Linked DNA regions of Homo sapiens: region 1 is reported to be linked to region 2. Evidence: microRNA targets listed by miRTarBase, many of them from high-throughput screens and not tested one by one. Region 2 holds a microRNA gene; the other region holds the end of a gene's coding sequence.
The links. The annotated mature microRNA hsa-miR-5011-3p reads GUGCAUGGCUGUAUAUAUAACA and lies in region 2 at 3,123-3,144, shown strand. An mRNA with a match to its seed (bases 2 to 7 or 8) in the 3' UTR can be bound and repressed. Matches are read on the target gene's strand: a 7mer-m8 pairs with bases 2 to 8, a 7mer-A1 pairs with bases 2 to 7 and ends in A, and an 8mer does both.

Region 1: miRTarBase lists ZFP82 as a target of hsa-miR-5011-3p. Seed matches in the 3' UTR shown: 7mer-A1 at 484-490.

What each region holds. Positions count from the first base shown.
Region 1 is chr19:36,388,747-36,393,154 of GRCh38, reverse strand. It overlaps ZFP82 (ZFP82 zinc finger protein), which reads left to right. Exons shown (of 5, transcript NM_133466.4): 5 at 1-4,408. The coding sequence ends at 414. Among named protein-coding and RNA genes, the nearest start is that of ZFP14, 12 kb to the right of the region's middle.
Region 2 is chr18:67,078,523-67,082,930 of GRCh38, forward strand. MIR5011 (microRNA 5011) reads left to right here and starts at 3,062; the gene lies at 3,062-3,164.

The DNA.
Region 1 (4,408 bases), not on the chromosome of region 2:
TGTAAGGAATGCTGGAAAGCCTTTAGTCGCTACTCACAACTTATTTCACATCAGAGTATTCATATTGGTGTTAAGCCCTATGACTGTAAGGAATGCGGGAAGGCCTTCAGACTACTTTCACAACTCACACAGCATCAGAGTATTCATATTGGTGAGAAACCTTATAAATGTAAGGAATGTGGCAAGGCCTTTAGATTGCGCCAAAAACTTACTCTACATCAGAGCATTCATACTGGCGAAAAACCCTTTGAGTGTAAGGAATGTAGGAAGGCCTTTAGACTTAATTCATCCCTTATTCAACATCTGAGAATTCATTCTGGTGAGAAACCCTATGAATGTAAGGAATGTAAGAAGGCCTTTAGGCAACATTCACACCTTACTCATCATCTGAAAATTCATAATGTAAAAATCTAAGAAAGTCTTTTCAACTTCTGTGTTATAGAACATTCTATGAATGTAGTAATTAATCTATTTTGCTCCATACATGCAACTGCGTTGGCATTAGAGGTTTTATACCATTAAAAGAGTGTGACAATGTATTGTAGTCCATCATCACTCAAACCTGAAACTTCAGCATATTTGTTCTAAAAACTAATCCTGTTATAAGAATGAAAAAGACATTTACCGTCATCCCTATCCCATCACTTTGTGTCATACTGGACAAGACGCTTAACTGCTCTGTGCTATAATTTTTTAATTTATGACATGGTCATATAAGAGTGCAGCAGTTTGACACACTTTCAATCAAGAGGTGGAATCTACATCCCTCTGTTGTATACAGGAATCTACATCCCTCTGTGACTGCTTCGCCCAGTAGAATATGGTAGACGTACTGCTGTGCTGGTTTCTTGACTCAGACTTTACTGGTAGGGTTACTTCATCTCATGAAATGACAGAACTGTCTTGTTACAAAGTCTGGCTACTTTGCTGAAGAGACCACATGAAGAGGCCCTGAAACTACGTAGAGAGGGAGAGGCACCTGCTGAACCCTGTCTTCTTGACATCCACCAAGATACCAGACATTTGAGTGAAATTTTGGATCCACCAGACCAGCCACCAGCTAAATGCCAGTGAGCGACTTGGTAACCTGAACTGATGCCATGTAGAATGGAAGAATTGACCAGCTGAGCCCCTGGCCCAAATTTCTGACCCACAAAAACATGAGATATAATAAAATGGTTGTTGTTTTAAGCCACTAAACTTTCTTTTATTATCATACTAAATATTTATTTTTACATAATTCATACTAAAGGCTGTGGGCATAATGAGTATAGAAATGCCTTCCACCAACATTTAATCTTCATTGAACTTGAGATATCTTATTCTCGTTAAAATATTGAAAGTAAGGAATTCCTTTCCAGTTTGTTCATTAAAAAACAGATACCCTAGACCAGGTGAGGTGGCCCATGCCTGTAAATCCAGCACTTTGGGAGGCCAAGTAAGGACGATTGCTTGAGGCCAGAAGTTCGAGACCAGCCTGGGCAACATGGTGAGACCCTGTCTCTACCAAAAAACTTTAAAAATTAGCTGGGCATAATGGTGCATGCCTGTAGTCCTAGCTACTCGAGGCTGAGGTGGGAGGATCATTTGAACCCAAGAGTTGAGGCTTCAGTGAGCTGTGATTGTACCACTGCACTCCAGCTTGAGTGACTGCAAGACCCTGTCTCAAAAAAAAAAAAAAACTACAATCAGTATTCTCTGGCCCCAGTCAATATTAAAAATTGACAAAGGATAACATGAAACTTTGGAAATTAAAAGTCACCTGTATTATGAAGCCCCATTAATTTTTTAAACTACTTCATTGTTTTTTAAAAATGCTAAATTGTCAATTTAGCATTTTGAGGCAATCCCCTCAAATTGGCTCCTGTGTCCTTTTATCATGACCACTCCAACCTTTGAGCTTTTTTTTTTCCTGAACCAAATGCATTGATTAGTTATGGAGCATACTAGAGCATTATTAACAAATAAAGGAAAAGAATGGAATATTTACCTTGCCTATCCTTTACAAACTATATTTCAAGACAACCAAAAGTTGGTGAAGGAAAGTTGTTGATTAGAGAATTCCAACTGGTTAAAAGGTCAAAGGAGGCCAGGCGCGGTGGCTCAAGCCTGTAATCCCAGCACTTTGGGAGGCCGAGGCAGGTGGATCGTGAGGTCAGGAGATCAAGACCATCCTGGCTAACACGGTGAAACCCCATCTCTACTAAAAATACAAAAAATTCGCCGGGCGTGGTGGCAGGCGCCTGTAGTCCCAGCTACTCAGGAGGCTGAGGCAGGAGAATGGCTTGAACCCGGGAGGCGGAGCTTGCAGTGAGCCGAGATCGCGCCACTGCACTCCAGCCTGGGTGACAGACCGAGACTCTGTCTCAAACAAAAAACAAAAAACAAAACAAAACAAAGATCAAATGAATGATAGAATTTGAAAACTACGCTCTTTAATTTTACAAAATCATGGATTTTCGTGGTGATAGCAATGGATGCGAAGACCATTAGGTGAAAAATGGATAGGAAGCTTATAATGCATGGAGCAGAATGACAGGACACTAATCTATATTAACATCTCTAAATGAGATCAGCCAGATGAACTTGATGTGATGAAATGGATACACACAGTGGACACCTGTGAAGTTTTCTTGGCTCCCCCAAAACTGAGAAGTACAAGTTAGTCTCCAAACCTAATTACCAGTTTACAGGAAACATGGGGAATAAAAGAACAAATTAACAACACAAAGAAGCAAACAACCAAATGCACAATTTGGGAAATTCTGCAGAAGTAATGGCCTAGTTTTTTAACCAATACATGTCAAAAAAAAAAAAAAAAAAGACAAAAATGGAATCCTACACTTTAAAGGAGACTAAGAAACGTATCCTTCAAATACAGTGTATGGAGCATTTTAGGATCCTTGTGTTAAAATGCGCTTGGGATTTGTTTTAATCAATCATGGTGAGACAGGCAGACATGGAAATTATTGTCATGAAGGAAGAAGTTTATACGCAGATCCCACAAACGGGAGGCATGGCATGGCATGCAGGGTCACGTAAAGAAGCACCTGGGTGTATCAGGAGGCAGAGGGTGAGAGCACAGCATGGCCCAGAGCTTTTATTGGGGGTTTTCATGGGAAGGAATGGACAAGGCAGGGGTAGGCACACTGGTAAGCTTAGGATTGAATAGTTTGAGTAATTTTGTTGGTCTCTGGGATCTAGGGGGGATTCGTAATTGTCTAGTTAGGGCAGGGGAATATTGAATTGGTGTATGAGAGTTTGGTAAAGGAGATAGTTGGGAGTATGGGCTCTGGATTGGTTGGTTTGTATATGAAAGGCATGCTTGCAGTGGAGTTTATCATCTATGCATTAGCTTGCCCTGGGAGGGGCAGCCTATCCAGGATCAAGGCCCCAAGTGGCCAGAGCATCAGGAATACAGAAAATAAAGAAAACATAGTCAATACAAGATTTGAAGGAATAAAATGTCTCTACATATTGTACAAATGTAAACATGGATTGGTTACTAAATGATACGAAATAATTTATTGTTCATATGTTAGGCATGACTATGGCATTATGGGTATATGTGTATGAGTCCTTAAGTGTTAGAGATTCATACTGAGGTATTTAAGGCTGAAATGTTATGCCTGTGATTTACTTTTAAATACTTAAAAACAAAAGGTGGGAGGGATAGATGAAACAAGATTAGCAAAATGTTGGTAAATGTTTAATCTGGATCATTAGGTACACAGGGTTCATTGTGCCGTTCTTACTATCTTTACATATATTTTAAATTTTCCATAATAAAGTTTTTTAAAGTAGAAAATCAAGTTTGGGCCAGGCGTGGTGGCTCATGCCTGTAATCGCAGTACTTTGGGAGGCCAAGGTGGGTGGATCATTTGAGGCCAGGAGATCAAGACCATCCTGGCCAACATGGTGAAACTCTGTCTCTACTAAAAATACAAAAATTAGCTGGACATGGTGGCACGCCTGTAGTCCCAGCTACTCGGGAGGCTGAGGCAGGAAAATCGCTTGAACCCAGGAGGCGGAGGTTGCAGTGAGCTGAGATCACACCACTGCACTCCAGCCTGGCAATAGAGTGAGACTCCATCTCAAAAAAAAAAAAAAAGAAAGAAAATCAAGTCTGAAATTGTAGACTATTTAGTGATGAATGATCACATGTTGCCTACAGATAACTTGGGGGAAATCACCAACCAAAGCTCTACTTGGTAGAAAATTTAAAGCAATGCATTTAGAACATCTGGATTGAGAAATAAGTATTTGTGTTGTTCACCATTCTGTTCACACACCTACAGTGCCTGTCACATAACAGGCAATTTATGGGAAAAAATAAGGATTAACTTAAGCTAGAAATTTTTAAAAACTAAGGTGAATAACAGCAAGTAGTTTATATGATCAAATAAAT
Region 2 (4,408 bases):
AAATGGGGTAATGGTGGGTAATTGTTAGATATTTTTTTCTATGTTGTTATGGATTATGCAAAAATAAGATAATGAGAATACATTAATACTTTAAAGATCATAATTCATTAAAATACTAAAAGATATTCACTATATGTTCTTCAGTTATCAAATATTAAATTTAATATACCCCATCATTTCAGATCAAGGATGATGACAAATCATTGCATAGTTGAACATAGATGCCGATGATTGTGGAACAATAGAGAACATAAGCCAGGTATCATGCAAGAAGCATAAAGAGTAGAAGGAAATCCTAGACCTAGTTCATTAATTTGGAAAATTAAAAAGGCATATGATAAAAAGAAATATATTACATCACCTGTATATTACCAGAGCTATGATTATCCAAAAGAAAAGGAAAAAACATCTACATTTATGAAAGCAGAAGCAGTACAAATAAATAAACATATATTTATTTATTTCTATTCTATAAACTGGATAATGTACGTAACTCTACCATGTATATTAGGGTAATTAAGCTCATGAAATCATTTAAATGAAAGTGGATTTTCAAATATTAGACTAGAAAATAATTAAAAATGTGTACTTAGCCCTATAAGTTTTGAGTTCTAGTTGATGAGACAGAAATACTTTTAAAATTTATGAAGTATCCACATTAATATGAAGTAACATTTATTTTACCTTATTGGAATTCTAAACTTTCAGAGTCTTAAGCATGATTTTTCTTTTCTAATGCAATGAGCTCTTTTAATTACAATCATTGTTAAATAAGAATACTAATATATATGGCATTTCCCAAGGTTACTCTGCTTATAACTTTAAAATTTAGCTGTTGCCAAAAAAAAAAATTTCAGCTCAATTTAAATTTCTTTTGTGACAGCTTTTATCTGCTCACCACTGCTTTCTTATGGCAATCATAAATTCTCAATGCGAAGCAAAGCACTGTTCTGCTTTCCTCAAACAAAAGGGAAACTCATCATGTGTTTTATTTTAAGAAGAGCAACATACTTCTCAGGCATTTATTATCTGTATGTCCTCAGGTTTTGTGACAAAAAAGCTATACACACAAACACATCCATGTATGTATAGAAATGTAATTGGAAACATATCAATTTTTTCTAGCCAGTAGATACACCTTCGGACGTCTTGAACTTAAAATGAAAAATTAAAGAAAAACTACATTGCAAACTCTCCATTGTCTCTGGGGTTCTTAGCTCATTTTCTCTGATAAAACCATGGGCATGGACAATTAAGAAATTAAGATGTGACCAATGATACAATAACATCCTGAAAATTGTACAGTAAGCCATCTGACCCTTAGAAACTTGTGTGCAAGTGTGTTTATCTTTGTAGATAGATCTTAATTAAATTACCTGGATCAAAGCTTAACGTATACTAAATTGCCACTCATGAATTATTGTCACACATTCTTGAGACACGGCTTTACAAATTTATATCCTTAAAAACCTAGATTGGAGTGCCTTCTTCACACATCCATGTCTAATATGGATCATGTTGAGTATCTTTGGATATATTAATTTTGCAATTTAATTTCAGAAAAAAGTAGTATAACACTATTGTTTTGATTTATATTTTTCTAATTGCAAAAGTTTTCTAATTTTCATGTATGTATTGGTAATTTGCATTCTATTCCTATAGAATTGTATATATTTTATTTTGTAATTTAGTATTGCTTCTTAAAAATAAATATTGACATTGTATATCATTTCGTTACATATATTGTATGTTTTCCTAATCCATCATGCATCACATACTTTGTTTTCCATATAAATTGTCATATATGTTTATTAACTAACTCATAAATACTCATATCTGTCACCATTTTTTAATGCTTTCTTGTGTTTTGTCATGTTTAGGAACACTTTCCCCACAATTCACAATACTATCTGACAGGTGTTAGTATACCTGTCAGTGTTCTTGGTTGTAGATGACTGAAATCCATTCCAATTGACCTAAACCAGGTAATAGATTATATTGGATAAATCATATAATTATTGGAAGGCTAAAGAAACAGGCTCAGAACAGGGCAGCCCCATGGAAACCAGGTTCCAGAATGGCAGTAAAATCCCCCCACAGGAACAGTCTGATGAGATAGCGCTGCTGCCACCGTGGCACTTCCTCCCCTAGGGCCTGGGATATTTGATGGTTAATTTCTGTACCTCTGTGATGAATACATACTTGTTTGTTTCTTACTGTTTTTACTTCTTGCTTCTGTTTCAAATTTCTCCCCGAAGCCATCTGTTTTAGTTTCCTCAGGCTGCCATAACAGATTAGCATAAAACAAATGGCTAAAAGAACAGAAATGTATTCTCCCCCAGTTCTAGAAGCCAGTTCAAACTCGGGTGTCGGCAGGATTGCATTTAATCCAGGATTCTAGGAGACAATTCTTTCTTATCTCTTCCAGTTCCTGGTAGCTCCAGATGTTTCTTGGAGCTACACTTGGCTATTTAAAGTTAATTTTAATGTTTAATTAACTAAACATTAAAATAATTAAAAAGTCAGTCCCTCCATTGTGTTAGCTGTATTTGAAATACTCAAAGGCACATGTGGCTACAGGCTACTATATTGGACTATGCAAGGGTAGAACACGTGTTATCACACAATGGTCTCTTGCACAGTATTGCTCTAGAATATTCCCTGGACAGAAAAGTTTTACCTGTGGGGCATTAAACAACAAAGAGCCTTACAATTGCCTCTGACTTGTATAGTAAAGCCAACAGTTGTTTGTTGTCATCGTCAGAAAAGTTGATTCCATATTTGAATATGGTTTCACTGCTTGTCATGCTTGGCCAATGCCACAAACCATGGATTAACTGATGGCCTTCTCCACTCTCATGGCTATTCACCCCCAACAATAGAACTTATTTCTTTCATGTTGCCTCATATGGCAGAATCCCCTTCTATTTTAAGGCTGAATAATATTTCATGGTCATATACATATATACACACACACAGTCATGCATTGCTTAACAGGGAAATGTACCTTAAGGCAATTTTATCATTGTTTGAACATCATGGAGTGTCCTTATCCAAACCTAGATGGTATTGAGTGGATGCTGTTATATATACAGCCATGCACTCTGTAGTTTGGGTACACAGTGCATGGCTGTATATATAACACTATCCATTCATCTTTCAGCAGGACTTTTTTTTGGTCACAACCCTGCTAACCAAAACAGGATCTGGCCAGAGAGCATGAAGTGAAGAAACTGATAGGAAGTGGCAGATGTCAACAAAAGCAATCTCTAACTACTCATTGCAATTTAATTGTCATGGTGCTGGTGGTAGTGTCTTATGCTAATGAGCAATATGAGCAGCCTGGCAACACAACCCAGAAGTTACCACCTCTTTCCATGGCAACAACCTAAAAGTTACTGCCCCTGCCTTAGAAAGTTCTAAACAACCTGCCCCTCAATTTGCATTGGCTCACCCCTCAATTTGCATGCATTTGACCTGCCTTAGAAAGTTCTAAACAACCTGCCCCTCAATTTGCATTGGCTCACCCCTCAATTTGCATGCAATTGAATGTGGGTCTCGCTGAGTATAAATACCGTTGCCAAGAGACCATATGTTGCTGACTCTGATTGCACTGCCTATGATTTAGCCCTGCTCTGCAAGGAGCAGTACCATTCAATAAACGATTGCTAAGACTCCTAGCTCATCCTTGAATTTTTTCCGGGGTTAAGCAAGAAATCCTCCCTGGCTAAGCCCCAGTTTGGGGCCTTGCCTGTCCCACAGCAGTGTAACGTACTACACACTTAGACAATATGACATAGACTGTATCTCCTAGGCTACAACTCTGTATAGCTTATTATTATACTGAATGCTATAGGCAATTGTAACACAATAGCATCCGTACATCTAAACATACCAAAACAAAGAAAAATTACACTAAAAACACAGTATCGTAATCTTATTGGACCACATTTATATATGTGGTTTTTTGTTGACTGATGCAATACACAGTGCATGGCTGTATATGTAACACTATCAGTCACCATTCAATGAGCAATTAGGTCGTTTCTATACTTTATTGCTACTAACACTACAATGAAATACATATGGATAAACCTAGAGGGCATTAAGCTAAGTAACTCTTACTTCTAAGATTTCTACCTTAAAGAGTCATATTTATGGCCTTTACTTGAGGTAAACTTCAGAAGCCATTTGTTGTGGATTAGGTAACGTGTGGAGAAATTGCTTTGTTGGGTTTTTCTTCCTTTGCATTTTAGTTTACACATATTAATTGTATGTATTTATAATCTGCAGAGTGATATTTTGATAAATGTATATGAAGTGTAATGATCAAATCAGAGTAATTAGGATAAACATCACCTCAAACATTTATCATTTCTTCATGTTTGGAATATTCCAAATCTCTTCT